Linked DNA regions of Homo sapiens. The protein of the gene in region 1 purifies or fractionates together with the protein of each later gene. This does not show direct contact. Each region holds a gene or a part of one and is shown in the gene's direction. Other genes may lie near its edges. The genes, in order: ANKS6 and TIMM9.

The links.
Region 2: the proteins of ANKS6 (region 1) and TIMM9 purify together in Homo sapiens (affinity purification with mass spectrometry; one large-scale study listed by BioGRID and IntAct). This does not show direct contact.

What each region holds. Positions count from the first base shown.
Region 1 is NC_000009.12:98,782,914-98,786,728, reverse strand, and holds part of ANKS6 (ankyrin repeat and SAM domain-containing protein 6), read left to right. Parts: intron 1-1,852; coding exon 1,853-1,897; intron 1,898-2,571; coding exon 2,572-2,776; intron 2,777-3,815.
Region 2 is NC_000014.9:58,417,280-58,421,094, reverse strand, and holds part of TIMM9 (mitochondrial import inner membrane translocase subunit Tim9), read left to right. Parts: intron 1-3,815. UniProt on the Homo sapiens protein: Mitochondrial intermembrane chaperone that participates in the import and insertion of multi-pass transmembrane proteins into the mitochondrial inner membrane.

The sequences.
Region 1 (3,815 bases):
TTGAATACTTGAAAGAACATGACATATTTTTTTTAAAAGTCAGGTGCAGAATAGTTTCTTGATAGTATTTCACAGGCAAAATTGATATACTGTGTCCCATGGCAGTGTCCGTACTTTCCATGAAGAATTCTGGGATTCTGGCCAGGTGTGGTGGCTCACGCCTGTAATCCCAGCACTTTGGGAGGCGGAGGTGGGTGAATCACGAGGTCAGGAGTTCGAGACCAACCTGGCCAAGATGGTGAAACCCCATCTCTACTAAAAATACAAAAATTAGCCAGATGCGGTGGTGGGTGCCTGTAATCCCAGCTGTTCTGGAAGCAGAGGCAGGAGAATCGCTTGAACCCGGGAGGCAGAGGTTGCAGTGAGCCTAGATCTCACCACTGCCCTCTAGCCTGGGAGACACAGCAAGACTCCATCTCAAAAAAAAAAAAAAAACAATTCTGGAGTTCCGGCCTGGAGCGGTGGCTCACACCTGCAATCTCAGCAGTTTGGGAGGCCAAGGCGAGCAGATCACTTGAGGTCAGGAGTTTGAGACCAGCCTGGCCAACATGGCAAAACCCCGTCTCTACTAAAAATACAAAAATTAGCTGGGTGTAGTGGCGTGTGCCTGTCATCCCAGCTACTCGGGAGGCTGAGGCACAAGAGTCACTTGAACCCAGGAGGCAGAGGTTGCAGTGAGCCAAGATCACGCCACTGCACTCCAGCCTGGGTGACAGAGCGAGACTCCATCTCAAAAAAAGAATTCTGGGGTTTACCTTGCTGGTTGCTAAAGAAAGTAATTGCTCTTTGAATGGCGCCTTAACATTATCATTTGATCCCTGCAACAGCCAGGTGAGAGGGATGCTATCCCCACATTTGTGATGAAGAGGCAGCTTACTCTAAAAATGTGCGCTGAAATTCACGTGCACTGACTCCACACTCTGTGCTCCTTGTCCTGGGCTGCAGCTTCCTCCCAGTTACTCAAGAGGGCTCATTTCGACCAGAGTCAGCCCAGAGTCACAAGTGCCCTCTGGCAGCTGCTCCATCCCCTGGGATCAATTAAAGGCTGCAGAAGGCCTGCCTTCAGCCCCCCAGCAAGCAGACTGGCCATGAGGATGCCTGCTCTGACAGGAATGGGGTACCTGCTGGCCCAAGCTTGGAGGAAGGTGTGGGATGAGCATGTGAGGGAGGGGCTAACATCTGGCGGCTGCAGCAAGGCTCAGCTGTGCAGGTAGGCATGGGGTCCGGCCCCAGCCTAGCAGCTGGGCTTCAGGGTACAGCATGAAGATGCCCAGTTGGGCAGCGGCTTTTGGCCAGCTGTGTCTGCAGGTTTGGAGGAGGGAGCATGTTCTGATTGCTTCTTACATGGGAGGGAAAGAAAATATGAGCATTGGCTCTTCTGTTGGCTGTGGCTGTGAACTTCCTTAGAGCTCAGCTGCTCGATATCTCAGGGGTCCTCTGATTTGGAATTATGATTGTACATTTAGTTTTTAGAAGAAAAAAAATTTTTAAACAATGTCCATGGGAATCCAGGATTTTCTAAGACCCCAAGACTTTTCAGTATATCTAAGAAAGGATATGCCAACGTTTGTTTTGCCTAAAAATGATTGCTTTATTTGCATGAGATCAGGGCCGTGATCTGCTGCTCATTCGTGTTTTGTTGGCAAGATCTGTCTCTGAAGTGTTTTCAGATGTTCTTGGGTAATAAACCTTCCAGAAGAGCTGCTGGATTTGTCCATTACGTAGGTCTCCAATTAGATTGCTTTTGAGAATTAGATGCTTTTTAAAGCCAGGCTGTGTTGTTACACCCTTGTGACTTTTCTGTTATATTAAACCTTTCCGTGGTTAACTTTAAAAATCTTTGTTTACCCAGATGAGGAGAAAAGGCGACCTGATATTTTCCATGCATTGAAAATGGGTAAGCGCTTTAGAAAATCTTTTTGGATATTTAAGAATATAGGGCTACATTCTCCCAACCTAATATTTGTAGTCCTTTGCAGGGCCACCCAGGGTATTTGAGAAAGAAACAGGCATTTTGGTGTTTGGTGTTTGGAAGTTCAGATCCTGGAGGCCAGTATTTATTGTAGAGCTCTACACATAGACTCCAGACGGCCTCCAGCCCCACTCCAGCCAAACACTGTCTAGCTATGCCCTAGCTCTTCCTGCATCTGAAATGCCTCTCTGCATACCCACTCCAGTCTCTTTGTGACAAAGAGGCATTTAGCCTAAAATTTTCTCTCTTGATATAGACCCTGCTTCCAGGAAGCCCTTCCCGATCCTCACCCCGCAGCGAGACCTGAACTCTCCTTCTGTCTTCTTCTGTCTCCTTCATCCGTTCTCTGAAGACACTAACAACACTTCTGTCTTTTGGTAACACTTCTGCCCATTCGTGTGTTTGTCTCTGTCTCGCCTAGACTGAGGCATTTAAGAGTCGGGGCTATCTCTGACGCCCTCTTAGTATCCCCTATGATGCCCAGCAGCCCACTGCAGAGGCAGAGCAGGGCCAGCAAGTGTTTGTTACATGAACCACAGGAGAAATCAGCCTATGGTACCAGGCCCACAGTTCACCCGGACTCCTGCTTGTGTTTGCAGGAAACTTCCAGCTGGTCAAAGAGATTGCCGATGAAGACCCCAGCCACGTGAACTTGGTCAATGGGGACGGGGCGACGCCACTGATGCTAGCAGCTGTTACGGGGCAGCTGGCTCTGGTGCAGCTGCTGGTGGAGAGGCACGCGGATGTTGACAAGCAGGACAGCGTGCATGGCTGGACGGCCCTCATGCAGGCAACCTACCATGGGTCAGTGCCAGCCCCACGCCCTCAGCGACAAGGCCAGACAGATGCTCTGGCCTGAGATGGAGGTTCCCAATGGGCTCTTCTGGTCCTGAGATGCTGCATACAAACCCCAGGACTATGACGACATTGAGGCATGGAAAAAAAAAAAAAAAGCGGCACAGGCTCATTTTAGTCCCACCCTTCTGTGTCCAGATTTCCTGTTCCCCCATCACAGAATTTCACAATGGCCCTGAAAAACCATGCAGCAGGAGCATTTTATGCAGAGAGATAAGGTTCTCTAGGTTGGTTTCAGTTGAACACAGTGACTGATTCATTGGAGTTTTCACATTGAGATATAGTGACCTCCTTAAGTAGCTCCTGTATGAAGTAAACATTGGTTATTCATACCATTGTCGTCTTGTGATGATTGATGGTGAGATGTGTCCTACCCCTCTCCTTTTGAATAGGCTTCAGTGTTTACAGGGTGCTTATGAACCCCTTCTTATGTGATCATCCCAGCAGGATGGGCTGTCATCCTCCTGGAGGCCTCGTCTTTGGGGTGGGCATCTTGTAGCTGCTAAGTGATCTGACTCCCAGTTAGAGGTTCTTTCCTTGCCCTCTTTTAGGTGATCAGATCACTTTCCTGTGTCATCTGAAAACAGTTTGTTTTCTTATTCGATGAGTCTTGAATTCCAAGACGAAATTTTATTTCAGACACCTTGGTCTGTAGGAGACTTTCCCAATGGAGATGTCCTGATTTAGGGTGGAAGAAGTGGAGTCTCCATGGGGTCAGTGATTTTTGGGCAGAGCTGTTGGTTTTGTCTCCTCTCCCCTCCCCCTCCCCTCCCCTCCCCTTCCTTTTCCTTCCCTTCTCTTTTCTTTTCTTTTCTTTCCAACAGTATCTCACTTTGTTGCCAGACTGGAGTGCAGTAGCGTGATCATGGCTCACTGCTGCCTTGACCTCCCAGACTCAAGCATCCTCCAACCTCAGTCTCTCAAGTAGCTGGAACTACAGACTTGCACCACCACACCTAGCTAATTTTTAAACAAAATTTTTAGTAGA
Region 2 (3,815 bases), on another chromosome or scaffold:
ATTATTAAGAATAGAGTTTCTACAAACATTCACATATAGGATTTCCTGTGAACACAAATTTTCATTTCTCTAGGACAGATGCCCAGGAATGCAATTGCAGGGTTATATGGGAGATGAATGTATAACTTCTTTAGAAACTGCCAAACTCTTTACATTCCCAACAGGAATATGTAAGTGATTCAGTTTTTCCATGTCCTCACTAGCATTTGGTATTGCCACTGTTTTTGTTTTTTTGTTTTGTTTTGTTTTTATGTTAGCCATTCTGATAGGTATATAGCTTGTTTTTTTTTTTTTTTTTTTTGAGATGGATTTTTGCTCTCGTCACCCAGGTTGGAGTGCAGTGGCGTGATCCCGGCTCACTGCAACCTCCACCTCCTGGGTTCAAGCAATTCTCTTGCCTCAGCCACCCGAGTAGCTGGGACCACAGGCATGCACCACCATGCCCGGCTAACTTTTGTATTTTTAGTAGAGATGGGGTTTCACCACGTTGGCCAGGCTAGTCTCAAACTCCTGACCTCAGGTGATCTGCCCGCCTCAGCCTCCGAAAGTGCTGGGATTACAGGCGTGAGCCACCGCACCCAGCAGCTTGTTTTGGTTTTAATTTGCATTTCCCTAATGGCTAATGATGTTGAACATCTTTTCAGGTACTTATTAGCCATATGTATTTCCTTTTTGCTGAAATACCTTTTTACGGCTCTTGCTTGTTTTCTAATTGGATTGTTTGTGTTTTTACTGCTGGGGTTTGAGAGTTCTTTATATCTTCTGCTTATTAGTTCTTTGTCAGTTATGTAGTTTGCAAATATTTCCTCCTGGTCTGTAGCTTTTCATCCTCTCAATGTTCTTTCATAAAGCAAAAGTTTTTAATTTTTTAATTTCATTTTTAATTTTCATGAAGTCTAATTTATTAATTTTTCCTCTTATAGTGTTTTTGATGTCAAATATAAGAACTCTTTGCCTAGCCCTAAAGCCAGATTTTCTAATATTTTTCTAAAAGTTTTAGTAGTTGGCCAATCATGGTGGCTTACGCCTGTAATCCCAGCCCTGTGGGAGGTGGAGATGGGAGGGCTGCTTAAGTCCAGGAGTTGAGACAGCCTGGGCAACATGGTGAGACCCTGTGTTTATTAAAAATAAATAAAAGTTTTAGTAGTTTTATATTTTACATTAAATTCCTGATCCTTTTTTTAGAGAGAGGGTCTGTCACCCAGGCTGGAGTGCAGTGGCACAATCTTGGCTCACTGCAGCCTCTGCCTCCTGGGCGCAATCCATCCTTCCTACCTCAGCCTCTTGAGTAGCTGGGACTACAGGTATGTGCCACCATGCCCAGCTAAAATTTTTTTTGTGTGTGTATTTTTGGTAAAGACGGGGTTTGTCATGTTACCCAGGCTGGTCTCAAATTCCTGGCCTCAAGCCATCTGCCAACCTTGGCCTCCCAAAGTGCTAGAATTCCAGGCATGAGCCACCATGCCTGGCCCCCCAATCCATTTTGAGTTAATTTTTGTATTAGGTGAGAAACTTAGTTCTCACATCTTTTTTTCCCAAAAATCAGTTGGGCAGGAGTGTATTTTTGTGTGTGTGTGTGTGTATGTGTTTGTGTGTGTGTGTGTGTGTGTGTGTGTGTGTGTGTGTGTGTGTGTGTGTGTGTGACGGGGTCTCACTCTATTTTCCAGACTGGAGCGTAGTGGCGCAACCATGGCTTACTGCAGCCTCTACCTCCCAGGCTCAAATGATTCTCCTGCCTCAGACTCCCAGGTAACTGGGACTACAGGCATGTGACACCATGCCCAGCTAATTTTCTTAATTATTTGTACAGACAAGGTCTCGCTGTGTTGCCCAGGTTGTTCTTGAACTCCTGGGCTCAAGCAATTCTCCCTTCTTGGCCTCCCAAAGTGCTGGGATTACAGGTGTGAGCCACCTCACCTGGCCAGTTGGGTTTTTTGGTGTTAATCTGTTATTAGATTCTTTGTTATGTTCCACTGACTATTTGTCTGTCCCTCCACCAGTGGCACACAGCATTGATTATTGTAGGCTCTTTATGTCTTGAAATCAGGTAGACCAATTCCTCTCACTTTATTCTTCATTTTTCAAATTTGTTTTAGCTATTCTGGTCCCTTTGCTTTTTATATAAATTTTATATAAATTTCCATATAAATTTGTGTATATTTATAAGAAATCTTGTTAGGACCTTGATAGAAATTGCAATAAGCCCGTATATCAGCCTTAAGAAAATTGGCATTCTTACTATATTGAGTCTTCTGATCTCTGAACACACAGTATGTCTCTCTGTGTGTTTAGGTCTTTGCCTTCTTTTGTCAGCATTTGGTAGTTTTCCACATACAAGTCCGTACATGTTTTGTTAGATTTGCCCCTAAATCTTTTTTTTTCTTTGAGTAATTGTAAATGATATTGTATTTTTACTTTCAGTATACATGTGTTCATTGATGGTATATAGAAATACAATTGATTTTTTAAATATACTTATTGTGTATACTGGACACTGCTGAACTTAATTAATTCTAGGAGTTTATTTGTAGATTCTTTCGATTTTGCATGTTCATAATTATATTACATGCAAACAGGAACAGTTTTGTTTTTTCTTTTACAATCTTTATGTCTGTTTCCTTTTCTTGCTTCACTGCACTGGGTAGAACTTTCAGCAGTATGTTAGATAAGAGTGGTGAGAGTGGACATCTGTCCTTGCTCACAATCTTATGGGAAAGTATTATCTTTTGCCATTAAGTATAGTGTAGGCTGTAGGTTTTTTTGTACATGCTGTTTATCAAATTGATCTTCCTTTTTTTCTGAGATATTTTGCTATGAATGGGTATTGCATTTTTTCAGATACTTTTTCTGCATCAATGTTTATGATCATTTGGTTTTTCTTCTTCAGTCTATTAATATGTGGACTTAAACGGATTAATTTTCAAATATTAAACCAGTCTTGCATCCCTGGAATAAACCCTTCTTGGTCAAGTTGTATAATTCTTTTTATATATTGCTGAATTATATTTGCTAATATTAATAGTAATAGACTTTTTTATATCTTTCATGAGGGATATTTTTATGGTTTTCTTTTTTGTACTGTCTTTGCCTGGTTTTAATATCAGGATAATACTAACTTCATAAAGAAGTTGTCAGGTTTATGTATGTAGAGTTGTTTGTAATATTCCTGTATCCTTTTGGTGTCTGCAAAACCTGTAGTAATGTACACCCTGTTTCATTCCTGATGTATAATTTGTGTCTTCTCTCTTGCTAGTAGGTTTGTCAGTTTTATTAATCTTTTCAAAGAACTAGCTCTTTCTTTTTTCTCTTTTCATTTAAATTGATCTCTGCTCTTTATTTCCTTCATTGGGTTCATTTTGCTCTTCTTTTTTAGGTGCTTGAGGTAGGAGGAGCTTGGATTACTGATTTAAGACCTTCCTTCCTTCCTACCTTCCTTCCTTCCTTTCTTCCTCCCTCCCTCCCTCCCTCCCTTCCCTCCTTCCCTAAGTCCCTCCCTCCCTCCCACGCTCCTTTCCCTCCCTCCCACGCTCCTTTCCCTCTCTCCCTCCCCTTTCTTCCTTCCTTACCTCCACTTCCTTTTTTTTTTTTTTTTTTTTAACAGGGTCTTGCTGTTTTATCTGAGCTGGAATGCAATGGCATGATCATAGCTCACTGCAGCCTTAAACTCCTTGGCTCAGGCAATCCTGCCTCAACCTCCAAGTAGCTGGGGGTATAGGACATGCCACCATGCCCAGCTACTTTTCTTTCTTTTCTCTTTTCTTTTCTTTTCTCTCTTTCTTTTCTTTTTTTGGAGAGAGAAGGTATCACTATGTTGC